7 linked regions of the Homo sapiens genome follow. The protein of the gene in region 3 purifies or fractionates together with the protein of the main gene of each other region. This does not show direct contact. Each region holds a gene or a part of one and is shown on either strand. Other genes may lie near its edges. The genes, in order: ABCB9, PEX11B, ABCA2, SNX14, IGSF3, ADCY3 and PDZD8.

Region 1 (3,787 bases), on a different chromosome or scaffold from region 3:
AGGACTGATGTCCTAGATCGAGGGCTTCCCCCATCTTTGCATCCCATCCCTCCACAGCCAGAGCTGCCTGGCCAGGGGCACGTACCCCGCTGCCCCAGACGTAGTACATGTAGGCAGCTGCCTCCTTCCTGTTCAGCTTGTACACCTGCTGCAGCTTCCGCAGGTACACCTCTGCCTCCTCCTCCTCATTGGCGAAGCTCCGGACAGTCTTCATGGCACTGATGGTCTCCTCCGCCGTGTTGCTCGCTCTGGCCAGGGCATTCTGGACCTCTTTGGAGAGCCTCTATGGACAGGAGGGGGACAAGAAGGAGAAGACCCCAAAACAGCCTCACTATGTACTGGAGCCCCCAGGCCTCTCTGGGTTTTTCCACCCTTCGCTGGCACCAGCTATATGCAAGAGGTTCCTAGGACAAAAAGACAAGATCTAGCCCTTTCTCCCCCATCCCCTTCTGGCTCAATTTGACACACTCAGGTAGTCAACTCCAGAGAGGCTCTTGGGGCAATGGTTTCAGCTCCTGAAGGATAGGGCACGGTGCTGATCGTTAAGTCATCCCCAGTATTCAAAAGAGGCTATTCATGACTGGACAGTTTTTGGTAATCCTTTCAGAAAAGGGGCCTCAACACCTGACCCTGTGCTGGAAGAGCAGGGGATGCCTTGGACGGTTGTTCAGGTTGTACACTATTTAAGAAACACCAACTATTAAAGGGGCACCATTTACATCATCAACATAAATTATGTTAGAGCCTGAGGGTTGATAAAGAGATTCCAGAACTCCCAGCCAAGTTCTACATGGTGGCAGGGGCCATGGGTTGTGAAATCTGCCCACACCATGTGCATGTCACCACAGGCAGAGCTGAAAAGTGGTCCCAAGTGTGCGGCCATCAGGCTGCTGTTCACCAGAGTCCTGGAAGAGGCCCCTGGGTGGAGCTGTTCACACTTTGCAGGAGTCACTATGCTGATTCTCAAGCCAGCCAGGAAGGCTGCCTGAGAGTCCAGGACAGGAGCATGCACTGGCATGTCCCATGACCATGTGTCACGCCCCAGCCGCAGGAAGCATGCAGGGTGCCTGAGTCATGTTTGGCCATGGGCGGTGTGTGTGGTTTGTGGAGATGACTCGCTGGCTACACACAACACATTCAGGCATGGGGTGGAAAACCCAAACAGAGCCTTCCTGAGGCCTCCCTTAGCTGAACTAAAAGGCAGGGCCTGCAGTGCACACAGAGGTGGGGGCTGAGGGGGAGCTCCAGGGTTTCTTGCTCCATCCCAGGGGCTGGTGGGAAGGCCGGAAGCAAGGGGTGGGGAGCAGCGTGCCAGAAATGGCTCAGACTCTAAAGAATAGATTTACTTTCTCATCTCAGTGAGGACGGTGGGGAGGCTCGTGACCAGGAACTTCGGGAAGAGGTCCTACCTGTGTGGCTGGAGAAGACTGTGGGGAGTGGCCTCACCGGGGGCTGGGTGGGAGATGGCTTCCTTTGCTACCCTGGTCTCAGGTCACCAACACCAAAGGCTCCAATGGAGCTGCGACAATGACTTACCCGGCACCACCTGGAGGCCGTCATGCATCCAAGCCCCTGCTCTAGAAGTACCCCACGTGGGCCTGGGTGACTGTGAGGGGGTTGCCTGTACCTGTCACAGGGTCACAGCCCTGCCTGTCTGAACCCAGCCTGTCTGTCCCTTAGGGCTCGGGGGCACCCGCCCATTCAGGAAGCAGGAGGAGGGTGAGGTCAAACCTGGCTCACGGCCCTAGCTCGGAAGCAGAAGCAGTGCCGTGGGGTGGCCAGAGGGGACAGCAGCCTGCCCATGATGGCATCACAGCGGGCCCGCGATGGCATCACAGCGGGCCCGCACCACCCCCACATACACACCAGGCACGTTCCAACCCAGGGCCTTTTCACTGGCTGTGCCCTCTGCTCAGCACATACCTCCCAAGATGCCCGCCTCCTTCAGACCCTTATTCAGATGTCCCCTTCTCAGCAAGACCTATTTAACTTGTATTTATTCATTCATTTTAGAGACAGGGTCTTGCTGTGTCACCCAGGCTAGAGTATAGTGGCACGATCATTGCTCACTACAGCCTCGACCTCCTGGGCTCAGGCGATCCTCCACCTCAGCATCCCAGGTAGCTGGGACCACAGGCATGCGCCACCAAGCCCAGCTAACTAAAAAAAATTTTTTTTTGTAGAGATGGGGTCTTGCTATATTGTCCAATCTTGTCTCGAACTCCTAGGCTCAAGTGGTCCTCCTGCCTGTGCCTCCCAAAGTTCTGGGATTACAGGCATGAGCCACCGGGCCCAGCCAGTAAATCCAATTTAAAATTGCAGCTACACCCAATGCTCCCAATCCCTCTGCTCACTTCATGTTTCTCCTTAGCACTGACCATCTTTTACTGTATTGTGGATTCTCATTCTTTATGCTGTTGGTACCTAGTATCTGTCTCTGACACTAGATACAAGTTCCAGGAAGGCAGGGGCCTTGTCTTTTTCACTGATGTATCCCAGTGCCTGGGACATAGCAGGTGGTCAATAATTATTTATTGAATGAGCGAAGAAATGAATGAATGAATGCAAACACAGCCTCAAGACCTGTCCTTCACTAGCCCTTAGTGGCCCCCTGAGCCCCTCCTAAGGGGATGTTTGGGGGCTGCCAGGGTGCACAGTCCCCAGCAGAGACAGGGCAGGCCTACCTTGTAGTACTTGCCGTAGATGTTGGACACCATCATGATGATGGGGAAGCCCATGAAGGTGACCAAGGAGAGCTGCCATGAGAGGCTGAACATGAAGACCACCACGCCCGTGACCTTGACTGTGTTCCGCAGGAAGACATTGATGTTCTGGGAGACCAGGTCGCTGACCATGGTGGTGTCCGAGGTCAGGCGGGAGATGAGGTCCCCTGGAACACACGCGGCTCAGCTCTCACCACAGCAACCCGGGCCTTGGGGGTGGCGGTGGGGGATGCTAAGGGGCCTCTGAGACAGACACTGGGAAGCCGGGCCTCCCTACCTGTGGGCGGGGTTGGGGGGTGGGGGAGAAGAGCAGATACCCCTCGAGGGCTACTCTGAGCCAATCCCAGTCATCAGCATCTTGCTTAAGCTTCATGACATCCCGCTGTACAGCGGAGGAGGCTGGGGCTCAGAACAGGAAGGCCCCCGTAGAGTCACACAGCCTGTCCGTGACTGAGCCAGACTTCAAACCCATGTCTCCTCCCTGTCACTGGCAGAGGGGGTAACTCCTCTTCCCTTCTAGGGAAATAACAACCTGGCTGGTGGCGGGCAGGAAAGCGCAGACACTTCTTACCTAAGTTGGACATTGTGCTAAGAGCTGTGTAAGGACCCCATGGGGTGGCTACTATCCGTGTTCCCATTTTACAGACAAGAAAACAGAGGATCAGAGAGGTGAAGTTCGTGAGTGGAGGAACCAGGGCTTCGACCCAGGCCGGTGTCTCTCAGAGCTTGGATCTTGGTGGATATTCTATCGTCTTCCCCGTTGTGGCCCCTGGCCCTCACCTGCTGACCCCCATGGGAGCAGGGTCTCTGTCGGCCACAGGCGTGGGTAGTCCTGGACCTGGTGGTTTCCATGGGGCAATGGAAAGCAAGGCCTTGGCTCCTGCAGGGACCTCGGGTGGCCTGGCCTGGGCCCCACAGAGGCCGCAGCCCACACCAAAACCTCAGTGAGCAAGCCAGCTCCCAGGACACAGGCCAAGCCCAGGGTGTTCCCAGCCTGAACTAACAGCAGGAGGAGAAGACAGAGGGCTGAGACCACCCACACGCCCATTTCATTCCTCAGTGCC
Region 2 (4,246 bases), on a different chromosome or scaffold from region 3:
TGACCTCGTGATCCCCCCAACCTCGGCCTCCCAAAGTGCTGGGATTACAGGCGTGAGCCACTGCGCCCGGCCTGCAATCCATTTTCAACATCTCAAAAAGAGATGTCCTTTAAACACAATTTGAATCATGTCATTTCCCTGCTCAGAATCCTTCAATAATGTCCCATTGTAGGATAAAATAAAACAAACATTAACATTGCCTAAAAGGCCCTGTATGAAAGATCTGGTGCCTGTCTATCTCTCAAATTTGAACTGATGGACTCAATACTGTCAATCACACTGGCTTTCTTTCTATTTCTCTAATTCCCTTAAGTCTTTCTTAGTTCAAAGCCTTACTTAGAATGTGCAATTTTCTCTGTTTGGAAATGTCTTTTCTGCTACTGTTGGCTTTGTCTAACTCCTCCTACTCAGACATCAGGTCTGAGCTAAAATATTACTTTCTCAAAGAGTTTTTTCCTGATTTTCCAATCTAAATTAGCTCCCCTTGTGATATTCTTTCATAATACCGCATACTTTTCCACAAATATATATGAGAAGTTATTCATTGTAGTATCTAACTCCCTCACTAAACTAGAAGCTTCATGGGAGCAGGCACATTATCTGTTTAGCTCTTTGCTTTATCCCCTGCGCCACAGTAAGCATCTAATAAATATCTTTGGAATGAATGAGTAAGCAGGTAGTGAGGGGGAATAACCTGTGGTATAGAAGCACAATTAAAGTGATATAATATCTTACCTTGCACAATATTAGTCATTCATTATGGAAGAGCATCTGTCTTCCATCTCTCCCCATTTGATATTCTCCGATAGTTTAAGATCTAAGTGATTGGAAGCCAAGTGACTGATCAAGACTTATATACTCTGGAAAGATCCTAAGATATCTTTCCCTCATATAAGACAAGCTATGCAATATAGAGGCTACAAAAAAAAATCTTAAAGGAGAACAGGATATCAAACCTGAATGAACGCTGGGCCCACTTCTCCTGATCCACACGGGGAGCCAGTCCAGACTTTCCAGCCCACAGGACATTGTCACAGGCGAAGTACAAGGCTCGATTGAGGTGACTAACAGTGATGCAGAATCTCAGGACAACATCTGATAGGTGAACAGCTCTTTTGGCTGACTCAAGGGCATCTGCTGAGTTACCCAGGCGTAGAACTTGTGGAGATTAGAAAGGGAAAGCAAGGATTTGTAAGTGGAGAGGCAGATAACAAGAAACAGAAACAGAGAAAGCAAGAGGGCAAAAGTTGAGCAATAATAATGACAATTTTTTTAAAGAGCAGAAACAGGCTGGGCATGGTGGCTCAAGCCTGTAATCCCAACATTTTGGGAGGCCGAGGTGGGTGGATCACCTGAGGTCACGAGTTTGAGACCAGCCTGGCCAACATGGTGTAACCCCATCTCTACTAAAAATACAAAAATTAGCCCGGCATGGTGGTGGGCACCTGTAGTCCCAGCTGCTCAGGAGGCTGAGACAGGAGAATTGCTTGAACCTGGGAGGCAGAGGTTGCAGTGAGCCAAGATTGCGCCACTGCACTCTGACCTGGACGAGAGACTCTGTCTCAAAAAAATAAAAAATAAAGAGCAGAAACAGTCCATTTTTCAATTTCAAATTTAATTTTTGTGCCAGTTTAGTTTTCTCAAACTTGACCCATTCTCTCCAGTCCGCCTAATTACTTCCATACCCCTGCTCTCTTATCTCAACTGGACTCATGCAGAGGGTAAGTGCAGAGCCAAATGAGAAAGAAGAACAGAGAGGGTACAGGAAGGAGGGACAAAGGAAGGTGAGCTGGGGATGGAGGAAAGGTTGGGGGATAAAAGGAAAGACAGAGTTACTTACGCTTTCTTCCAAGGCTCAGGTGGCTCTCCAGTTGTCGAATCTGTTTCTGTAACTCAGGACTGGCTCCATGCCTCTGCAGCGCATGGCCAAGAAGAGAGCAAGCATACTGGGCGGCCCTAGAGGAGAGGGCAGGCAAGGTAAGGTGGAGACCTCCCTAACCTTCCGCTCAAAACTATCTTCCAAAAGGCACAGACAGACTTCCCCCTTTCCCAGTTTGAGAACACTCCCCTTCCTCCTCCATGCCCATATCTCACCATTTCTCCAGGCCAGAGGAAGGGAAAGGCATAAGGAGAAAAAAGAGTCTAGAAAGGGGTGGGGAGCACTATTGAATGTTGAGCAAATTAGAGATTTGACAATGATGAGGCCTGAAGGGGCCAGTGCAGGCCGCAGGGGTCCATCACAAGCACATCAGCGTGAGCATGTACGTGATCGATGAGGGGGAGGCAGACAGTTGGAGGGCATTTTATTCCTCAGAATAGGTGAACTGAGAGATTTCAAGGCCCTCTAGCTGAATGGAGACCAAACGCCAGGGCGGAGGCAGGGGAGTTCCCGAATGGCAGCACGGTGTGGGGACACGGAAACTGGGAGTGCCTCCTCAGCTCTGGGGGCAGAGTCTGGGGCTATCCACCGTGGGGCGAATGCTCCTCATTCCATCACCGCCCAGTGAGGACACTGTCGGTCTTATGTGGACACAGCAACCCTGAGCGGCCTCCCCGCTGGCCCACTCATGCCTCAGTTTCCCCATCTCTTCCGCGAACGGAAAGGAATCATCTCAACAGCGGCTCAAATCTGCGCCTCACGGTCCGTTCGGGCCCCCGTAGCCGGAGTTGACCCTTCTTGACCCCCCTGTAGCCTAAACTGACTTCGCCTCACTAGAGTCTTCCTCTGTCCATCCCTCCCCCGCCCCACCCCCATTCCTATTCGGGCCGCACCTACACAGCCGCTCCCGGGCTTGGCTCTGAGCACTGAAGCGGACCCAGGCGTCCATGACAGCCGCAGCCCAGGCTCCGCGGCCCTGCTCCCGCCCCACTTCCCGCCCCTAGTCACGCCTACTGCGCGACCCAACGGTGCCTCGCGAGGGACAAACAGTATCAGAAAAGAAAGCTTGGCCCTGGAAGCGGAATTTCAGGACGCGAAACTCGTGTCTTTTGAGCCTCCATCTGTGTATTACTGTGCGTGTCTGCGTCACAGCTTCCCCTTATCAGACGACCCCTACTCCCTAGCACGCCTCCAGCGGCACCTTCTTCTTTAAATATTCATGACCAAGGGCGGGGCCTGCAGGGGCCGGGGCGGGGCGAGAAAGCGCCGCAGTGATCTCCACGTCTTGGAGGCCGCCGGCATAGGTGTGCGCCTGGCAGAACCTCACAAATACACATGCACGCAGGCCCCGACTGAATCCAGGGCTGTAGGGGCTAAAGAGGTCTAGGTCAGTAGAGGCCTGAAGCCCAGGCTGGTCTGTCCAAGGAAAAAGGAGCGTGATTGGTACCAGATCTTCGTTCCCTGCAGAACCTTGACAGTTGAACAAGTGACCTCCTCCAGAACAGATGGAGAGTCTCCAGAAGCAGAGGCTTTAGTGAACGAAATTCGCAATAATCAGCTCCAGATCCTGAAAAGGAGGGCGAAGAATCAGTGGCCAAAGCTAACCGCTTCATACCCACACTTCATCCTCCTCAGTTTCTCTCCAGGCCACCATGTCTGCAGGCAACGGCACCCCTTGGGGTCAGCAGCGGGGGAGGAGGTCTGGGCTGGATCAGGAGTGGAGGTGGAGGGCTCAGAGCTGCCCACCTTCTCGGCAGCAGCCAAGGTCCGAGTGGGAGTGACCATTGTGCTGTTTGTTTCTTCGGCTGGAGGGAACCTGGCAGTCCTGTGGTCAGTGACACGGCGGGAACCCAGCCAGCTCCGCCCCTCTCCGGTCAGGAGACTCTTCATCCATTTAGCAGCCGCCGACTTACTAGTCACTTTTGTGGTTATGCCCCTAGATGCCACCTGGAATATCACTGTTCAATGGCTGGCTGTGGACATCGCATGTCGGACACTGATGTTCCTGAAACTAATGGCCACGTATTCTGCAGCTTTCCTGCCTGTGGTCATTGGATTGGACCGCCAGGCAGCAGTACTCAACCCGCTTGGATCCCGTTCAGGTGTAAGGAAACTTCTGGGGGCAGCCTGGGGACTTAGTTTCCTGCTTGCCTTCCCCCAGGTGAGTGACCTAGGACTCAGGACCGGGCAGGACAGGGATTTGGGTCCATAGCATGAGTTAAAGGGTGCGCTTGGGGGCCATTAGCCATTAATTCTCAGGGAGTAAGCCTCTGCTTGCTTTTTTTTTTTTTTGCCGGCTCACTGCAACCTCCGCCTCCCGGGTTCAAGCAATTCTCCTCCCTCAGCCTCCCGAGAAGCTACAGGCGC
Region 3 (3,787 bases):
TTCCCCCCCACCACGCCTTGGTCCCGCCCCTGCATCTTGGCCCCGCCCCAACCTCCCGGCCCCAGGTGTGATCTTCCAGACCCGGAAGGACGGCTCGCTCCCGCCTCACGTGCACTACAAGATCCGCCAGAACTCCAGCTTCACCGAGAAAACCAACGAGATCCGCCGCGCCTACTGGCGGCCTGGGCCCAATACTGGCGGCCGCTTCTACTTCCTCTACGGCTTCGTCTGGATCCAGGGTGAGGAGCAGGCCCGGAAGACCGGCTGGAGGATTCATGGGGGAGGACAGGTGTGAGGACGAGAGGGCCTGCCCGGCACCTGATGGCTGCCCCCACCCACAGACATGATGGAGCGCGCCATCATCGACACTTTTGTGGGGCACGATGTGGTGGAGCCAGGCAGCTACGTGCAGATGTTCCCCTACCCCTGCTACACACGCGATGAGTGAGTGCTGGGCGCCCGGGGCTGGGGCTGGGGCTGGGGCTGAGTGGCGCCTGAGCGCGGCCTCCCCGCAGCTTCCTGTTTGTCATTGAGCACATGATGCCGCTGTGCATGGTGATCTCCTGGGTCTACTCCGTGGCCATGACCATCCAGCACATCGTGGCGGAGAAGGAGCACCGGCTCAAGGAGGTGCGCGGGCCGGGACTCTCCCTGGAGGCGCGGGCTGGCAGGGAGGGGCGGCGTCCTCCCCGGGGCCTGCCCCAAGCCCCTGGCCCACCCGCAGGTGATGAAGACCATGGGCCTGAACAACGCGGTGCACTGGGTGGCCTGGTTCATCACCGGCTTTGTGCAGCTGTCCATCTCCGTGACAGCACTCACCGCCATCCTGAAGTACGGCCAGGTGCTTATGCACAGCCACGTGGTCATCATCTGGCTCTTCCTGGCAGTCTACGCGGTGGCCACCATCATGTTCTGGTGAGCGCGGGCCATGGTAGGAGGGACCTGGGGCAGGCACTTGCCCAGCAAGCTCACCCCACATCCTCTCAGAGCCCCCTGGACCCTGGCACGGGCCTGCCCAGGAGGCCGGGCGTGCGGGTGGATGACGGTGCGCGTGGCCCCTGCCCACCCAGCTTCCTGGTGTCTGTGCTGTACTCCAAGGCCAAGCTGGCCTCGGCCTGCGGTGGCATCATCTACTTCCTGAGCTACGTGCCCTACATGTACGTGGCGATCCGAGAGGAGGTGGCGCATGATAAGATCACGGCCTTCGAGAAGTGCATCGCGGTGAGGGTCGCGGGCAGGCGGGCGGCTGGGGTGCCGGGCCACCCCACGTGCTGACACCACTGCCTTCTCAGTCCCTCATGTCCACGACGGCCTTTGGTCTGGGCTCTAAGTACTTCGCGCTGTATGAGGTGGCCGGCGTGGGCATCCAGTGGCACACCTTCAGCCAGTCCCCGGTGGAGGGGGACGACTTCAACTTGCTCCTGGCTGTCACCATGCTGATGGTGGACGCCGTGGTCTATGGCATCCTCACGTGGTACATTGAGGCTGTGCACCCAGGTACTGGCCAGCCCTTGGAGGGCAGGGGAGAGGCAGGGGTCCCCAGCCAGGGTTGGGGACCAGCAGTCTGTGTCCACTCCTGGATGCAGCACGGGTGGCTCCCTGGGTGGGCACGTGGCCCACGTGGTGGATGGTCACCCCAGGCCCTAGGTCAGCCTCCCCTCCCCTCCCCGACCCCCAGGCATGTACGGGCTGCCCCGGCCCTGGTACTTCCCACTGCAGAAGTCCTACTGGCTGGGCAGTGGGCGGACAGAAGCCTGGGAGTGGAGCTGGCCGTGGGCACGCACCCCCCGCCTCAGTGTCATGGAGGAGGACCAGGCCTGTGCCATGGAGAGCCGGCGCTTTGGTGAGGCTGGCATCAGAATGGTGGCTGGGGTGGGCGCTGGGTTCAGAGTCCTGGGTGGCCTTGGCGCCGCCCCCACCCTGCTGATCCACAGCCCTGGTGCAGAGGAGACCCGTGGCATGGAGGAGGAGCCCACCCACCTGCCTCTGGTTGTCTGCGTGGACAAACTCACCAAGGTCTACAAGGACGACAAGAAGCTGGCCCTGAACAAGCTGAGCCTGAACCTCTACGAGAACCAGGTGGTCTCCTTCTTGGGCCACAACGGGGCGGGCAAGACCACCACCATGTGAGTGTCGGAGGGGCAGGGCGGTGGGCATCTGCTGACCAGAGCAGGAGTCCTAGTCAGGGCAGGGTGGGGCCCCTGCAGAGGGCGTGGGGTCATGACCCCGCCCACCTACCCAGGTCCATCCTGACCGGCCTGTTCCCTCCAACGTCGGGTTCCGCCACCATCTACGGGCACGACATCCGCACGGAGATGGATGAGATCCGCAAGAACCTGGGCATGTGCCCGCAGCACAATGTGCTCTTTGACCGGCTCACGGTGGAGGAACACCTCTGGTTCTACTCACGGCTCAAGAGCATGGCTCAGGAGGAGATCCGCAGAGAGATGGACAAGTGGGTGGGCTGGGCGGGGGGCGGGGCAGGTGGGCGGAGGCCCTGGGGCTCTGCATAGCAGCAGCCCCATGCCCCACCTCCCTGTCCCAGGATGATCGAGGACCTGGAGCTCTCCAACAAACGGCACTCACTGGTGCAGACATTGTCGGGTGGCATGAAGCGCAAGCTGTCCGTGGCCATCGCCTTCGTGGGCGGCTCTCGCGCCATCATCCTGGACGAGCCCACGGCGGGCGTGGACCCCTACGCGCGCCGCGCCATCTGGGACCTCATCCTGAAGTACAAGCCAGGTGAGTGGGGTGCCGTGTGGGCAGGGGTGCGGGCGGCGCCTCCCCTGCCCCCTGACCCTGGGTCTGGCCTTGTCCTAGGCCGCACCATCCTTCTGTCCACCCACCACATGGATGAGGCTGACCTGCTTGGGGACCGCATTGCCATCATCTCCCATGGGAAGCTCAAGTGCTGCGGCTCCCCGCTCTTCCTCAAGGGCACCTATGGCGACGGGTACCGCCTCACGCTGGTCAAGCGGCCCGCCGAGCCGGGGGGCCCCCAAGGTCTGTGTTGAAGCTGCCTGAGCTGGCTTCGGGCCACCTTCTCCCCGGGACCCCCACCTGAGAATCCACAATGGAGAGGCTGGGCCCTCACCGTCACCCGCTGGGCCCAGGATGCCTGCTGGGGCCTGGCCCGCCCTCTGCAACGCCCGTATCTTGGAGAGGCTGGGTCCTCAGCGTCACCCCCTGGGCCCAGGATACCTGCTGGGGCCTGGTTCTTCCTCTCCAATGCCCATATCTTGACCCAGTTGGGTTCCCATTGGGGGTCCCTCCTCCCAGCCCCTGAGTGAATTCCTTCCTGCTCCCACGTCCCCCACAGAGCCAGGGCTGGCATCCAGCCCCCCAGGTCGGGCCCCGCTGAGCAGCTGCTCCGAGCTCCAGGTGTCCCAGTTCATCCGCAAGCATGTGGCCTCCTGCCTGCTGGTCTCAGACACAAGCACGGAGCTCTCCTACATCCTGCCCAGCGAGGCCGCCAAGAAGGGGGCTTTCGAGCGCCTCTTCCAGGTGTGAGGGCGCACGGGTCGGGGGGCAGTTGCAGGTGGTGGAGGTGGGCGCACTCCTGCCTGGGCGTCCCTGCCGCAGCCTCCCCCTCCACCGCCCCTGCAGCACCTGGAGCGCAGCCTGGATGCACTGCACCTCAGCAGCTTCGGGCTGATGGACACGACCCTGGAGGAAGTGTTCCTCAAGGTGTCGGAGGAGGATCAGTCGCTGGAGAACAGTGAGGCCGGTGAGGGGCCTGGACCACTTGCTCAGCCCACCCCACCCACAAGGCCCCAGCTCGGGCCTG
Region 4 (3,787 bases), on a different chromosome or scaffold from region 3:
CCAAGATAAGCAAAAAGGAGCAAAACAGACTTTTGAAGAAATGATGAATTACATTCCAGGTGTAATATTTAAGAAGTAACTTAATTTCATATAGATTAGCAGTCCGTTGAGGTCACAATGTATAGTAATTATTGAAGCTAATTTTTTACTGTGAGTTTTCATTTTACAAATAGTTGCAAAGATCAGTTAAAATTAACACACTAGTTAAATAATTCTTTCAGATGTTAGCACTAAGACTAAGATATTAGGACTTTAAGGCAAGGCTGTTTCTACTCACATAATAGCCAGATTCATTCAAAAATAACTTATAGTCAGACTGGTCAAAGTGACATGTGGGACAATTGAAGGCCTGTGTCCACGACACCATAAGAATAGCTCACTAGTGTGTATGATAAAAGATCAGAATTCATTCATTCCAAATTTATTGAGCACCTTCCATATTCCAGGCACTATGCAAAATGCAAGGCATATAAAAAATGCACTTGAGTAGGTCAGTCTAGCAGGAAGACAGGCATATAGACAAAACATACATGTGATAATAGAGGCATTTTCAAGTTACAGAGATATCACAAAGGAGGAGGATGGTCACCTCCTCTGTAAAGTTGGTAGGTTTGGGCCACTAAGGAAATGAGTGGTAGTAACCTCTTAACTGTGACGGGAAATAACAAGGAAGAAATGTCAAGGGATCAAAGCAGGTGATTCTTAGTTTAGAACATTTTGAATGAGAAGTGCCTATAAATTACTCAGGAGGAAGTGTCTGTTAAACACTTAGACACCGAGGTTCAAAAGTTGGAGAAAAGGTGGTATAGGATAGATTAGTAGAGATATGGGAGCCATGTGTGAGTAGATACTAAAGCATAGGGAGAAAGTATGGAGTAAGAAGAGAAAAGGGTGACTTCCAGTTTCTGGTCTGGCACATAAGAACCTGGCCATCATCACTCCATCCTAGTAACAAGCAAAAACCTGAATGAACTAAAAAAACTAAACAACTCTTAGATTCACCAGAGAGTGAGGTCATACGGCAAGCCACTGCCCCCCAAGGTTGGAGAGAATCATAGCTAGCTGCAGCAGAAACCCGTGAACTCAAAACCCCTGGAGAAGCCAGTGCTGAGCTAGGGAAACCTGAACTATAACTGACAAATTGCTACAGCCTTTTAAATCTCTTTTTAAGAGATTAAAAACTCCAGGGGAACCAAGTCATGGGGTTACCCATCCACATTTTTTTTTTTTTTTTTTTGAGACAGAGCCCCACTGTGTCACCAAGGCTGGAGTGAAATGACACGATCTCTGCTCACTGCAACCTCCGCCTCCTGGGTTCAAGCAATTCTACTGTCTCAGCCTCCCGAGTAGCTGGGACTACAGTCCTGCACCACCACGCCTGGCTAATTTTTGTATTTTTAGTGGAGATGGGGTTTCCCCTTGTTGGTCAGGCTGGTCTCGAACTCCTGACCTCAGGTGATCCACCCGCCTCGGCCTTCAAAAGTGCTGGGGTTACAGGCGTGAGCCACCGTGCCCAGCCCATCCACACTTTTTTTGTGAGTTTTACCTCCAGGGCCTTGACCAAGATCCCACAGTGAATATTGGAGAAAAATCCCCATGTGCTTCTGGCAAGGGGGCCAGAAGGGAACCATTTTGAAATACATCAGTCAGGGCATTCTGTTCTTGACAAGGCCCTACCCTCAGTAGAAAGTGACCAGAGCCTGACTGACCTGATGGAAGGGAAAGAACCAACTCTAGCCAGCCCTGGCCTTCCACATGGAAGAAGGGAAATACCCAACTCCAATACACTCTAGCCATCTTGTCCTGTGCAAGGGGGTCAGGGGGGCCTGAGAAGCATGTGTGAAGTTCACAGTTCAGTGGTACAAGCTCACTAAAAGATTGAGACCCCCTCCTAGGACTATAGAACCCTTCCTCTCCCTCCATATTTTATCACCACATTACTAAAGGCCTGTTTGCAGCAGTTCCTCTTAACTTGTGTGTCATGTCCAGTTATCAAGAAAAAAATTACAAGACATATTAAAGGCAAGAAAAAACAGTTTGACGAGAAAGAGCAAGTATCAGAACCAGAGTCAGATATGGCAGGGATGTTAGAATTATACACCAAGTGGGATTTATCCCAGGTATTCAAGGCTGGTTCAGCATTCATTCAAAAGTCAATTAAGGTAGTCCATCATCACATCAGCAGGCTAAAGAAGAAAAATCATGATCATAGCAGTAGATGCAGAAAAAGCATTTGACAAAATCTAACACCCACTTATGATCTCAGCAAACTAGGAAGAGAGGGGAACATCCTCAACTTGATAAAGAATATCTACAAAAACACCTATAGCTAACATCACACTTGATGAAAAACTTAAAAGCTATCCCACTAAGATGAGGAACAAGGCATGCTCTCACTACTGCTTTCAACATTGTACTCGAAGTCCTAGTTAGTGCAGTAAGACAAGAAAAGGAAATAAAGAGCATAGTGATTGGGAAGAAAGAAATAAAACTGTCTTTGTTCACAGATGACATGATTGTCTATGTAGAATATCCAAAAATTGACAAAAATGCTCCTGGAAATAATAAGCAATTTTACCAGGGTGGTAGGATATAAGGTTAATACACAAAATTCAGTTACTTTTCGTGTATATCATCAGTGAGCAAGTGGTATTTGAAATTAAAAAAAATACTATTTGCATTAGCACCCCCAAAAGTGGAATACTTGGGTAGTAATCTAACAAAACATGCACAAGATTTATATGAGAAAAATTGTAAAACTTTAATTAAAGAAATCAAAGAACTAAATAAATGGAGAGAGATTTTATGTGGATAGAAATATTCTGTTTTCAAGATGTCCGTTCTTCTGAACTTCGTCTATAGATTCAATGCAGTCCCAATCCAAATCCCAGTAAGTTGTTTTGTGGGTATTGACAAACATTTTAAAGTTTATATGGAGAGGCAAAAAGACCCAGAATAGCCAACTCAATATTGATTGAGAACAACAAAGTCACAGGATTGACACTACCTTTCTTCAAGGCATACTATAAAGCTACAGTAATCAAGAAAGTGTGATATTAGCAAAAGAACAGACTTACAGCAACTGTTCTTATTAGCAAAGGAACAGTTTACAGCAAAACTGTAAAACTTAGAGGATAACATGGGAGAAAATGTAGATGACCTTCTGTTTGGCGATGACTTCTTAGTTGCAACACCAAAGGCATGAACCATAGACGAAATAATTGATAATCTTTACTTCATTAAAATTAAAAATTTTGCTTTGTGAAAGACACTATAAAGAATGAAAAGAGAAGCCACAGACTGGGAGAAAATATTTGCAAAAGACGTATCAGATAAAGGACTGTTACCAAAAATGTACAAAGAAATCCTGAAACTCAACAATAAGAACACAAACAACCTGATTTTAAAATTGGCCAAATATCTTGACACCTTACCAAAGAAGATTACACACAAGCATATGAAAAGATGTTCTACATCATATGTCATCAAGGAAATGCACATTTAAAACAATGAGATACCACCACACACCTGTTAGAATGGCCCAGATCCAGAACACCAACACCACCATTTGCTGGTGAACATGTGGAATTCTCATTCATTGCTGGTGGGCATGCAAAATGGTGTAGCCACTTTGGAAGACAGGTGAGCAGTTTCTTACAAAACTAAGCACACTCTTACCATGAGATCTGGCAATTATGTTTCTTGATATTTACCCAAAGCAGTTGAAAACATGTCCACCCAGAAACCTGCACATGAATGTTTATAGCAACTTCAGAATTGCCAAAAC
Region 5 (3,787 bases), on a different chromosome or scaffold from region 3:
GAACGATCATACTGGTTATCATGTGGGAAAAAAGGTTTAATTACTCCCTAATGGTCTGGGAAACCAAAGATTTCAAAATACGGAGCTCCTGGGGGAAGGAGAGTTAATAAAATGGGTCCTTGAGAAGTGAAGTGGGAAGCCTGCCTCATGCCATGGCACCAGCGATGCCACAGGTGTACCCAGTGCCCTGCCGAGAGCAGAGACAGTGTTCTCAGAGTTGCTATCAAAAAGGAGGCCGCAGACTGCATTCTGAAGCATCAGACAATGGGTCACATGCAAAAACAGAATTAAATACACAAAAATAGCACCAACTTAAGGCAAGCCTGGGCAAACTGCACTACATCAAAGAAAGAACACACAACTGGTATCAGATTTTTTTTTCTGTTTTAATAAAGAGAAGGCCTGGACACCTGAAAGTTGACGGGAAGCAGGCATTACTCATTTCTCCGAGTTCACAGTTTTGTTAGAATGTCTTTGCTCTGATTATGGTTTTTTTTTTTTTGAAATGGAGTTTTTTGTTTTGTTTTGTTTTGTTTGCTTTTGTTGCCCTGGCTGGAGTGCAATGGTGCAATCTCGGCTCATCGCAAACTCCGCCTCCCAGGTTCAAGAGATTCTCCTGCCTCAGCCTCCCAAGTAGCCAGGATTACAGGCACCCGCTACCACATCTGGCTTTTTTGTGTTTTTAGTAGAGATGGGGTTTCACCATGTTGGTCAGGCTGGTCTTGAACTCTTGACCTCAAGCGATCCACCCGCCTCGGCCTCCCAAAGTGCTGGAATTACAGGCATGAGCCACCACGCCTGGCCTGATTATGTTTTGATGGATATACAGAAGCTCTTGCTTTGGTACAGAAACAGGCCCCCCTTTGCTTCGACCTCTGGGCCCCCCACCTTCAGAAATGTCTGGTGCCATTCCTGGCTCCTCCTCTCAGTGGTCTTCCAGGATATCCACTCACAGCTTTCTGATGTCGCCCACCTGTCTCTAGCCCAGATACCCAGTCCTCATGGCAACTGACTGCAGCAATTTTTACAAATCTACACCCTTAGGGTTCCCATCCCAGGACATTCAGGTTTCTCCACCCCTTTAGAAGTGCCCAGAATATCCTCTACCCCACAATTCCAACAGGACGTCACTCTCCTCTTACTTAAGAAAAATGCCTAAAATTCCAGCCCTTCCAAAAGGCCTTTCCAGATTGACCACTCAGGAGTTACTCTGGCCTCCCCTTCACTCCTCCTGCTAAACTGAAAACAAGGACAGACTTGCCTGGCCTCTCTCCCCCAGTAGACACCTACCCTCAGTGAACACATCCTGTCAGTGTCCTCCTGTCCATTTGCAAATTGATTGACTGTTTCATTGCTGGCCTTGGATGACCTCTCCTAGAGGGCAGGGACGGGTGGTGTTCGGCAAAGCCTTGGTCGTCTGGATAATGGGAAATGGGGTCTTCTGGTGAATTTAATTACAGGGTTAGGTGGAAACTTTGCTTCAACTCTCGTTATTAGAAAGCCTATTGTAAAGCTTTTTAAAATACAACTGACCACTTTCCAGGCAGGGTAGAGTTAATATGCCTTAATCTTTGATTTAGGATCTTGCAGTGCCCCAGGCTCACCATTCTCTTCTGCTACTATAATTATAGATGCGGAAGACATACAGACTGGGCTGACGACTGCTTGGAAGCTAATTTCTAGAATAAACCCTTGCTACCACATCTTGTGATTTTTGCCCTTCTGAAGGTGGAGTTCAAAAATAAAAACAAAATCCCACTTAACTGAGGGTTCCAGTTGAGGGAGGTCTGCTGCCATGGTCTTTGTTAAGTGCCTGCCACCATGGCCCACAATTAGTCAGTTAATAAAGGGTTCTTGATGAGAGAATTTGGCAACATGTGATTTTCCACAAATATAAGCTTGATTTTGATGCAACCACTCATTTCTTTGAAAATCAGGGGGCATTCACACACAGGTGTTCTAGATTTCCTTAAAGTAAAAACCAACCCTTTACAAGGAATAGCTGTGTTCACTTTGAAGCAGTAAAGAAGCAGGTGTCCACTCATGGCAAATGAGGAACTCCCTTTTTTTTTTTGAGACGGGGTCTCGCTCTTTTTGTGTGTGTGTGAGATGGGGGCCACCCAGGCTAGAGTGCAGTAGTGCAATTACAGCTCACTGTAGCCTCAACCTTCTGGGCTCAACCAATTCTTCCCACCTCAACTTCTGAAGCAGCTGAGACTACAGGTGTGTACCACCATGCCCAGCTAATGTTTTTGATTTTTAGTAAGATGAGGTCTTGTTATATTGCCCAGGCTGGTTGGTCTCAAACTCCTGAGCTCAAGTGATCCTCCTGCCTCAGCCTCCCAAAGTGCTAGGATTATCGGCATGAGCCACCATGCCCGGCCAGAAGCTAAAAATATTAATCAAGGAGTCATAACTAAGGATGCACTGCACACCCAAAGCCAGGGACCACGAGAGGTCAGCAACTGGGACTGCTTCCTCCAGTTCCCAGGCTGGGGCTCAGCAGCAGTGGCCTGGGCTCTGGGGACTTACTTTAAGCCTAAATCCCAAACTCATTATAATTCAAACCAATTTTCTGTGTCCAGCATCATCCCACCTGAACTGGTCCTTAAAACCACTGACAGTCATTTCTCCAATCTGTAAAAGGCCTGCTGAGGCCTTTGCATTATCAGGACTTAATTGGGAGTAGAATGCCCTCCCCATCAAATCCTGACCATTTCTGAACACTCAGCCCATGTCCTCTTCCTGAGTGTCTTCCCCAGCAACAACCACCTACACTGAACTTTACTTCGATCTCTGCAGGAAACTGTAGATAGAGATGCGGTCTCACTATGTTGCCTAGCTGGTCTTGAACTGCTGAGCTCAAGTGATCTCCCTGCTTCTGCCTCCCAAAGTGCTAGGATTACAGCAGTGAGCCACCACACCTGGCCTATGTATGCTTTTCTTTTTTTTTTTTTTTTTTTTTTTGAGACAGAGTCTTGCTCTGTGGCCCAGTCTGCAGTGCAGTGGCGCAATCTCAGCTCATGGCAACCTCCAGGTTCAAGGGATTTTCCTGCCTCAGCCTTCCGAGGTGCTGGGATTACAGGCACACACCATCACGCCCAGCTAATTGGCCAGGCTGGTCTCAAACTCCTGACCTCAGGTGATCCACCCACCTTGGCCTCCCAAAGTGCTGGGATTACAGGCGTAAGCCACCATACCCGGCCACGTATGCATTTTAAAATGTTATGCTCAGATGGGGTCTATAGGCTTCACCAGACTGCCAAAAGGATCCATAACACAAAAAAGGTTAAGAAGCTCTATAATCAGACAAATGTGAATTCAAATTCAGATTCTGCCAAATTCCAGCTCTTTTCCTTTGAACATAATTGTTTTCAAGGGAAAAGTGTCATGAATTTCCTTATCTTGATCAAGGAAGCCAACACAGAAACAACACCTACCTTGTGAAACCATTCACTCATCAAAAAATTAACTGGGCCAGGTGTGGTAGCTCACGCCTGTAATTTCAGCATTTTGGGAGGCCAAGGCAGGCGGATCACGAGGTCAGGAGTTTGAGACCAGTGTGGCCAACATAGTGAAGGCCCATCTCTACTAAAAATACAAAAAAATTAGCCGGGTGTGGTGGTGTGTGCCTGTAATCCCAGCTACTCGGGAGGCTGAGGCAGGAGAATCGCGTGAACCCAGCAGGCGGAGGTTACGGTGAGCCAAGATCGTGCCACTGCACTCCAGCCTGAGCAACAGTGTGAGACTCCATCTCAAAAAAAATAAAATAACTGAACACCTGCTT
Region 6 (4,330 bases), on a different chromosome or scaffold from region 3:
GGCAGGAAGTGGGGGAGCCTCTCTTGACCATCATTGGCACGAGGCTGGCAGGCTGGGCACCAAACCCAGATGCAGACATCTCCGCCTCATTCTCTGGTCACCGGCTTGCTGGCTCCCCAGGGACACACACTGCCTACTGTCCCTCAGGTCCCCTGGTCTCTGCAGCCCCTGAGGGCCTGGCACTTGGTGGGAACACAATACTATAATAGTTAAGCTGAGGCCGAAATTCCACCCCTTCCAGTAGAAAGCGTGCTCCAGGACCAGCAGAATGCGTGCTTTAGGACCAGGAGACCCTACGTCACAGTGGCCGGCATGACTGTCCCCATTTGCATCCCCACACCACACCTTCAGTGGGGAGACCACCATTCTCCACTTCATAGAACTCCCCAGGCACCCCGAGCTCCCGGAGGCAGGAAATATGACAACTGCGTCTTCCCTCTGTGCAGCCCTTCACGTATCCTAATGCGCTTTCCCCCACATCTCCTGCAATCCTGACAACAACCGTGTCATGCAGGCAGAGCGGACGTTATCCCCATTTGACAAAGGGGCACTGAGTCCACACAGCTAGTCAGTGCTGGGGAGAGATGGGAATCAAGGAGCCCTCTTCCCAAGGGAGGTCCTCCTTGCCAGGGTCACTGACAGGGAATGGCCAGGACAATGCTGCCTCAAGACCAGCCCTGGGTGGGCCTTCCTGTCACACACTTAGACTGGGCACAGGTGAAGAGTGGCCCTGAGGCCCAATGCCCTGACATCCTCCTTTCCCTGGGGCCAAGCACAGGCAGACTCCGGGTAATGGCACAGGGGTGAAAAGGCAGGGACTAGGGAGAGAGGTGAGAGCCCCGGAGGCCCCCAGGACACATTTTGACTCAAAGGCAAAGCAAACAGCAACTCCAACAGGTCCCAAGTTGGTGAGAGCTGCAGGAGAGGACGCTGTGGGGGGACAGTGGGCAGGACTCACCTCCCGCAGCAGCTGCATCCCCTTGAGCTCCTCCTGCTGCTGCTGGGCCACGGTGACCCCCAGGACCAACGTGTGCACCACACAGGAGACCACGGAGATGATCACGATGGGGCTGAGGCTGAGGGGCAGCGTGATGAAGAAGGAGAAGACAAAGAAGACCTGCCAGCCCACCGTGTCACTAGCCGCGTGGGCACGCGCGAAGTTCAGGCCCAGGTAGGAGAAGATCTGGGCGGTTATGAGCAGCCACAGCACGTAGGGCAGCACTCTGCGGGTGACCCGGTCCGGGAGCAGCCCCTTTTTGCAGAGCACGAAGAGGATGATGTCCAACACCAGTCCAATTCCAGCCACGGCGAGGGAAGCCAGCTTGTCGCTGGAGAAGACCACAGCACACATGACCACCACGTAGCAGTCAAAGAGGGCTGCAAAGACCACCAGCACCAGCAGGGTCTCGTGGCGCTGCCTTTTGAAGTAGGTCTGGTAGAGGTTCTCCAAGGACTCCGGCACGAAAGTCAGCCGCATGAAGCGAGGCAGGCACAGGCAGGAGCCCGAGTTCCGGACCGAGATTTCATGGGTCCGGCCCACCCCGCGGTCAGGGTCGGAGGGCAGGCTGACGGAGTACTCGGCTGAGTACTCGGCCGAGTATTCGGGCTCGGAGAAGCCCTGGTTCCTCGGCATACTGGCTGGTGTCTGCTACTGGCCCTAGAGAAGTGGACTGGGAACGGAGGAAGAGCTCTGGACTGGGCCTCCTCTCAGGGCTCTCTGAGACCGGGGGAGGGCTGAGGGCCTCTTCTTGTCTGGGGCGGAGGGGAGGCCACCTCCAGCAGGAACGCAGAGCGGGTTTCCAGAGCACAGGTAGCACTGATCAGCTAGAACTGAAAAGGGCATTGCTGAGTAGAAGCACCTCTTCCCTCCTACCTTGCGGTTTCCCCATGACCCGCCCTAACCCTCATAAAAGGATCTCTGCTGCAAGAGCCTCCCAACCCAGGGCCTTCCCTGCCACCCCCGGCTCACACCACCGCCCACCGCAGGCACACTTAGTCCTGTCCACGCCAGACACTCAATTTCCTGTCCCTGGCTTGTGGAAGGGCCTAGCCGCCTTTCCATCCCTGGTAACCGGTTTCTCTCTGTCATCTCTTCTTTCTCAGTCCCCGACTTCCTCACCTAAATTCCCTCCAGGCCCAGTCCTTAGAAGCTGTAAATAAAATGTGCCGGAAAGAAATCAGGACCATCGTGGGGGATTCCTGAGCCTTCCTTCTGTTTACTTCCTTTTTCCACCAAACCCTTGGAGGCTCGGGCTCCGATCCGGCCCCCTTCCCACGCTCGGGGCGCTGTCTTCCCCCCCGGAAGCCTGGCCCTGCCCCTGCGTTTACCTGTGCGGGAACTCGGCCACCGCGTGCTCCGGGACGGTCCCCGCGCGGGCTGGGGCGGGAGAGCTCGGCGCGCCCGAGGGCTGCTCCCCGCAGAGCCGCGCCGCCCCGGCAGCGCCTCGGGGCCCGGCCGGAGCGCGATCTCCCGCCGTCAGGCCCGGGATCCGACCGGGAGAGGCGCAGGGCTGCCCCTCAGCATCCGCGGGCGCCCGGCCGCAGGGGGAAGGAGGAGGCGGCGACGAGGGCTGGGAGATCCGTGGGCGCCGGCCCAGCGCGCCCGCCCTGGGGCTGAGGCTCAGGGGCAGGGGCCGTGCGGGGGCCGGCAGGCGCGGGCGGCGGCGAGCGCGGCTCTCCGGACCCCTCCCCTGCACCCGCGGCGGCGGCGGCTGCTAGGGGCGCGCGCGGGGCCCTCCCCGGCGGGAGCGCGGGCCGAGCCCGGGGAAGCCCGCCAGCATCCTCTCGCCCGCCCGCGCCGAGCCGAGCCAGCCGAGTCCGGGCTCGGCGTGCTGCACAGCTATTCCCCGCGCGGCGCCGGCGGCTCCGGGGCCACGCGCGCTCCAGGCCCCGGGAGGCGGGAGGCGGGAGGCGGGAGGCGGGCGGGGCGGCCCCTCCCTCGCCCCAGTCTCCGCCCTCTCGGCGGCGCGTTCCGGAGTGGGGCGGCGAGGGAGGCGCCGGGCGGCGGTCCCAGGACCCGCGCGGGCGAGAGGTGGAGGGGCCCGGGCGGCCCCCGATCCGGCGCGGGCGGCGGGCTGGGGCGATGGCTGCGTGGAAGCGCGGGCGCGGGCGCGGGCGTGGGCGGTGGGCGGTGGGCGGCAGGGCTGGGGCGAATCCACCCCTTCCAGCGAGGAGGCCCGGTCTAGGAGGATGGAAGCCCGGGACGCGCCCGCCCGCAGGTGAGGCGCGCTCGGGGCACCCCGCCGCCCCCTCCTCCGCCGCGGCTTCCTTCCGGGCCGGCAGAGGCCAGGGCTCAGGTTTGGGGACCGCTCCGCCGCGGGGCACGTGGGGCCTAAGTATCCCCGCCCACCCCGGGAGCCCAGACTCCGGAGCGCCGGGCCTGAGCTTTCCGCAGAGGGGCTCGGCAGCGGAGCCCTGTCCTGCTCCCAGGAGGCGGGTGGCGGTGGCCCGGTGGGCACTACACACGTGGAACTGGAAGAGTTCCTGAGACCCTGCTTCGAAGAGATTTCCCGTGCACATTCTACCCGTTTGAGATGTGTTTGAGTTCACAAACTGTCCCTTAAAGATGCGAATGCTCCTTTGAATAGTTAAACCTATCAGTCTCTTACACCATAGTATAAATTATTTTCCTTGCATTTGACAGAACACCGTGCTAAGATCAACTACAGGCTTTGGGAATTTAAATAAAGGAAGAGGAAAGAGATAGAATGTTTTGGGACAAAAGGGACAAAAGCATGTGTGGGAAGGTAAGTGCTGAGGACAGCCAGCAGCAATAGGGGGTCATCTCCCCTGGGGAGAGCTGAAGGAATGAACAGAGGGGAGAGAAACTTGGCTATCCAGACCCTGGATGGAGCTGCCACCCCATGCCCCTGAGAGTTATCCGCGGGCACCCCTTCCAGAACCTCAGGCATCACCTTGCATCCCTCGGGGAATGGATCCATTAGAGAATCGATCCTGCCACTGCTGTTTCTACCGTTCCCTCACACTCTGTCTGAAAAGGCGCCACCTTCAGCCCATACTTCGCAGGGCTTTGATTCCAAAGGTAGGGGACCTAACATCAGATATAGGAGTTTGGTAATTTAAATAAAGCAAAACTTTGCCCCATTGTTTTATTTTATTTCTATTTTTTATTTTTTCGAGACTGAGTCTCACTCTGTCACCCAGGCTGGAGTGCAGTGTTGTGATCTCAGCTCACTGCAACCTCCACCACCCAGGTTCACGCAATTCTCCTGCCTCAGCCTCCTGAATACCTGGGATTGCAGGCACACACCACCAAGCCCGGGGTAATTTTTGTATTTTTAGTAGATGGGGTTTCACTATGTTGGCTAGG
Region 7 (3,787 bases), on a different chromosome or scaffold from region 3:
AAAAAAAAAGTTACATTGTTAATGAGATGTCCTATTCTAACCCATCAAGATCATTTTGTTTTCTAAATAAACCTGCCATCCAATTTTCAGGAATGTGGATACTAGATTAACATCATCTGTGAATTAACAACAACATCATCATGCTATGTGTCCTCATTCAAACAACTGATTTAAAAAAAAAAAACAGGCAGAGTGCTACATCCCAGCTGTTGACAAGGATTCAATTAGTGTTTATGGCGCTCAATTACAAATCAGTCTAATTGTATTATTCTCCAGTCCACATTTCTTAAGTCCTATTCTTCAAGGATATCTCATGAGGGACTTTGCCAAATACCCTAATATCCAAATATATCACTGGCTGCACTGCTTTAATATATAAATCCCACTTGGACAGAAATTCAATTTTCCTACCTAATGATATTCGCTGGTAAAAGAACCCTCACTGGAAGTTGCTCTTTAATTTGGGTGTTAACAAATTTTGTAAAGTTATTTTAAGGAAAATCTTAATCATACTGTGCTCAAGAAATGGGATATGTGGTCAAATTCTGAATTACCTAAAGGTTTACAAAACACAAAGCCCCGCCAAAACACGTAATTTGTGTTTAAATCTCCTAAGACATTTGTCCAATCCCTGCCTTATGACACAGCAATTAATCACCTTACAATGTAAAGTGCTGTACACAATTAAGGCTTTTAACAAAACCCTTAACAACATATTCTCTCAAATCCAGGAACATAAATATATTCTTAATATACAGATTGCCAAAGCTGAAATTTAGAATGTAAGTTTTTCTAATTGCAGGAAGCTAATGATAGCAAATGGGTAGAAAACCTAAACAGTGTAAGTCTGAGTACTGTAAAGTTTAAAAATTAACACCTGCATTTGGAATGTGTTTTTTTTTTTTGTTATTTACTCTGCTTTTAAAAGTAGAATGGAGATTCAGGGGGTAGGATTAGGAAGTGAATAGAGGCTAGTGTAAGGTGTTAGTGTAATTTAGTTTCTTAATTTATTTTCTATCTATAAATCATATCTTTCCCTTTGCTTTTCTTAATTCAAATGATACCTGAAGTAAACATTCCAGATGCAAAAAAAAAAAAAGATAAGGTTTTCAGTAGCAATAATTAGGGCCAATATTACATTACCTCACTTTCTCCCCAATTTTTACTGATTATTAGTAAATACTCTTAATTTCAAGTATGTACAGGGAACAGAACATAAGACACTGTTTCTTTTACAAGCTGGTTTTTGTTTCCTTTTAAGCCTGCACCCCACTGACCTAATTTTAGATTTTAATTTCAGCATTCCCTGAAATGAAAATCATCACCTTAATTAAGTTCTGACATGATTCAGAAGTTTCAGAATATAAAAACACCTCTTAATTAAAAGCCTGGTGAAACAAAGCATTTTAAAATGAGTATTTCACAAAAACATTGTTATTTTAATATAAAATTTAAGATAAGGTTCAAGACCATGCAATGATACACAACTTTTGGAACAAAACTGATTTTCCACTAGGGTAAAACTACTATTTTAAAACCAGAATAGTACAATGATATATAATATATAATTCTCTCCCATATGTATGCATCTATATCTTAAAATTATTTATGACTATTGGATATGCCTGGCACTATAAAACATATGCCAAAATAGAACTTTTAAAATGACAATGTAAAAAACAAACATAAATAGAAACCCTAAATATTTTTCCTGTACATGGTGAAGCATGCTGTGGCTTCAACATGCATTCCCTGGAATATAATATCACCTGAGAGGGTTTGGCTTTTAAGATTTTATTACAGAAAATTTCCAATATATACAAAAGTACAGAGAACAGTAAAATCAACTCAGTGGTAGACCATAAAACATGGTAACAAATTCCTCCTATCCTTATAAGCATATCTCTTTGCAATGTAACTTTACTAAAGCTGCTGCTAGAGGTATAACTTGGTTTCTTCATCCCTCTCTCAGCAACCAATATAACTAGAAAAAAATAAGTGGAGGCACAGGCAACCTCAACATCATCAACCTTGATTTAACTGACACTTATAGAACATTATACTCAACAATGGCAAAATACATTCTTTTCAAGTGTACATGGTAAGTTCACCAGGATGTAGAAGGTCATGAAACAAATATCAGTAATTTTAAAAAGACAGAACTCTTACAAAGCATGTTTTCTGACCATAGTGGAATTAAATTACAAATTAGTAACTAGGAAAACCCCAAATATCTGGAGAGCAAAACAACACACTTCTAAATAATTCATGAGTTAAAGAAAAATCACAAGAGAAATCCAAAAATATTTCAAATGAAATGATGAAAATGCAACCAATCAGAATTTGTGGGATGCAACTAAAGTAGTGTTTTAGAGGAAATTTATAGTTTTAAATGCTTATATAGGGGGGAAAATCTAAAATTAGTGACCTAAGTCCCCATTTTAAGAAATTAAACCCCAAAGTAGAAGCAAAGAAATAATAAAGAACAGAAACCAATGGAACAGATACTTAAATAATAGAGAAATCAATAAAAGCTGACTCAATAAAATGACCAATAAAACTGGTAAGCCTATAGGCTAAACTGATCAAGAAACAAGAGAGAAGACACATATTACCAAATAAATGGCTATTACCAAAAAGACAAAAAAAAAAAAAAAAAACAAAAAAACAAATATTGACAAGGATGTGGAAGAAGAGGAACTCCTATACACTGTTAGTGGGAAAGTAGATTAGTTACAGCTATTATGAAAAACAGTACAGTGGTTCCTCAAAAATTTAAAAATAGAACTAGCAATGATCCAATAATCCCACTATTGGGTATATAGTCAAAGAAAATGAAATTGGTATGATGAAGATATACTTGCACTTCCTTGATTACTGCAGTACTATTCACAAGAGCCAAGCTATGGAATCAACCTAAGAGTCCATCAATGGATAAATGGATAAAAAATGTGCGGTATACAAACACAGTGGAATACTATTCAGCCACAAAAAACAAAACCCCAGAGAAAAGTCATTTATGACAACATGGATGAACCCAGAGGACATTATGTTAAGTGAAATAAGCCAGGCAGAGAAGGACAAATACTGTATGATCTCACTCATATGTGGAATCTAAAAAACTTGATCTCATAGAAATAGACGTAGAAGAGTGGTTACCAGAGGCTGGGGAGAATAGGGGGAGTGGGGAGATCAGAAGTGGCTATAAAAAGTTACAGTTAGGAGGTATAAGTTCTGATGTTCTATTGCACAATAGGGTAACTATAGTTAATAATGTATTGTATATTCCAAAATAGCTGGAAGAGATTATTTTTAATATTTTCACCACAAAGAAATGTTTGCGGTGATGGCTATGCTAGTTATCCTGATTTGATCACTTGAGCTGGGAAGGTGGAGGTTGCATTGAGCCATGACTGCACCACTACAGTCCAGCCTGGGCAACAGAGCTAGACCCTGCCTCAAAAACAAAAAAAACCCACCACCACCAACAAAACCCAAAAAAGACTGAAAATGAACTCAGTGGTAGACCATAAAACATGGTAACAAATTCCTCCTATTCTTATAAGCATGTCTCTTTGCAATGTAACTTTACTAAAGCTGCTGTTAGAGGTAAAACTTGGTTTCTTCATCCTCTCAGCAACCAATATAACTAGAAAAAAGAAGTGGAGGCACAGGCAACCTCAACATCATCAACCTTGATTTAACTGACACTTATAGAACATTATACTCAACAATGGCAAAATACATTCTTTTAAAGTGTACATGGTTATATCAATTATATACATTA

The links.
Region 1: the proteins of ABCA2 (region 3) and ABCB9 purify together in Homo sapiens (affinity purification with mass spectrometry; one large-scale study listed by BioGRID and IntAct). This does not show direct contact.
Region 2: the proteins of ABCA2 (region 3) and PEX11B purify together in Homo sapiens (affinity purification with mass spectrometry; one large-scale study listed by BioGRID and IntAct). This does not show direct contact.
Region 4: the proteins of ABCA2 (region 3) and SNX14 purify together in Homo sapiens (affinity purification with mass spectrometry; one large-scale study listed by BioGRID and IntAct). This does not show direct contact.
Region 5: the proteins of ABCA2 (region 3) and IGSF3 fractionate together in Homo sapiens (co-fractionation; one large-scale study listed by BioGRID). This does not show direct contact.
Region 6: the proteins of ABCA2 (region 3) and ADCY3 purify together in Homo sapiens (affinity purification with mass spectrometry; one large-scale study listed by BioGRID and IntAct). This does not show direct contact.
Region 7: the proteins of ABCA2 (region 3) and PDZD8 purify together in Homo sapiens (affinity purification with mass spectrometry; one large-scale study listed by BioGRID and IntAct). This does not show direct contact.

Annotation. Positions count from the first base shown.
Region 1 is NC_000012.12:122,945,940-122,949,726, forward strand, and holds part of ABCB9 (ABC-type oligopeptide transporter ABCB9), read right to left. Parts: intron 2,891-3,787; coding exon 2,685-2,890; intron 284-2,684; coding exon 86-283; intron 1-85. UniProt on the Homo sapiens protein: ATP-dependent low-affinity peptide transporter which translocates a broad spectrum of peptides from the cytosol to the lysosomal lumen for degradation.
Region 2 is NC_000001.11:145,915,861-145,920,106, forward strand, and holds the start of PEX11B (peroxisomal membrane protein 11B), read right to left. Parts: upstream 2,858-4,246; 5' UTR 2,829-2,857; coding exon 2,773-2,828; intron 2,670-2,772; exon of another isoform or gene 2,586-2,669; coding exon of another isoform or gene 2,572-2,585; exon of another isoform or gene 2,095-2,571; intron 1,957-2,094; coding exon 1,841-1,956; intron 1,159-1,840; coding exon 957-1,158; intron 1-956. UniProt on the Homo sapiens protein: Involved in peroxisomal proliferation. May regulate peroxisome division by recruiting the dynamin-related GTPase DNM1L to the peroxisomal membrane. Promotes membrane protrusion and elongation on the peroxisomal surface.
Region 3 is NC_000009.12:137,014,630-137,018,416, reverse strand, and holds part of ABCA2 (ATP-binding cassette sub-family A member 2), read left to right. Parts: intron 1-65; coding exon 66-239; intron 240-341; coding exon 342-444; intron 445-515; coding exon 516-630; intron 631-724; coding exon 725-915; intron 916-1,070; coding exon 1,071-1,221; intron 1,222-1,292; coding exon 1,293-1,497; intron 1,498-1,678; coding exon 1,679-1,843; intron 1,844-1,945; coding exon 1,946-2,126; intron 2,127-2,242; coding exon 2,243-2,455; intron 2,456-2,545; coding exon 2,546-2,742; intron 2,743-2,820; coding exon 2,821-3,003; intron 3,004-3,319; coding exon 3,320-3,504; intron 3,505-3,606; coding exon 3,607-3,727; intron 3,728-3,787. UniProt on the Homo sapiens protein: Probable lipid transporter that modulates cholesterol sequestration in the late endosome/lysosome by regulating the intracellular sphingolipid metabolism, in turn participates in cholesterol homeostasis.
Region 4 is NC_000006.12:85,510,072-85,513,858, reverse strand, and holds part of SNX14 (sorting nexin-14), read left to right. Parts: coding exon 1-59; intron 60-3,787. UniProt on the Homo sapiens protein: Plays a role in maintaining normal neuronal excitability and synaptic transmission. May be involved in several stages of intracellular trafficking. Required for autophagosome clearance, possibly by mediating the fusion of lysosomes with autophagosomes.
Region 5 is NC_000001.11:116,657,536-116,661,322, forward strand, and holds part of IGSF3 (immunoglobulin superfamily member 3 isoform 2 precursor), read right to left. Parts: intron 1-3,787.
Region 6 is NC_000002.12:24,917,355-24,921,684, forward strand, and holds the start of ADCY3 (adenylate cyclase type 3), read right to left. Parts: upstream 2,884-4,330; 5' UTR 2,329-2,883; intron 2,232-2,328; exon of another isoform or gene 2,120-2,231; intron 1,831-2,119; 5' UTR 1,634-1,830; coding exon 959-1,633; intron 1-958.
Region 7 is NC_000010.11:117,291,686-117,295,472, forward strand, and holds part of PDZD8 (PDZ domain-containing protein 8), read right to left. Parts: exon of another isoform or gene 1,779-3,787; intron 1-1,778. UniProt on the Homo sapiens protein: Molecular tethering protein that connects endoplasmic reticulum and mitochondria membranes. PDZD8-dependent endoplasmic reticulum-mitochondria membrane tethering is essential for endoplasmic reticulum-mitochondria Ca(2+) transfer.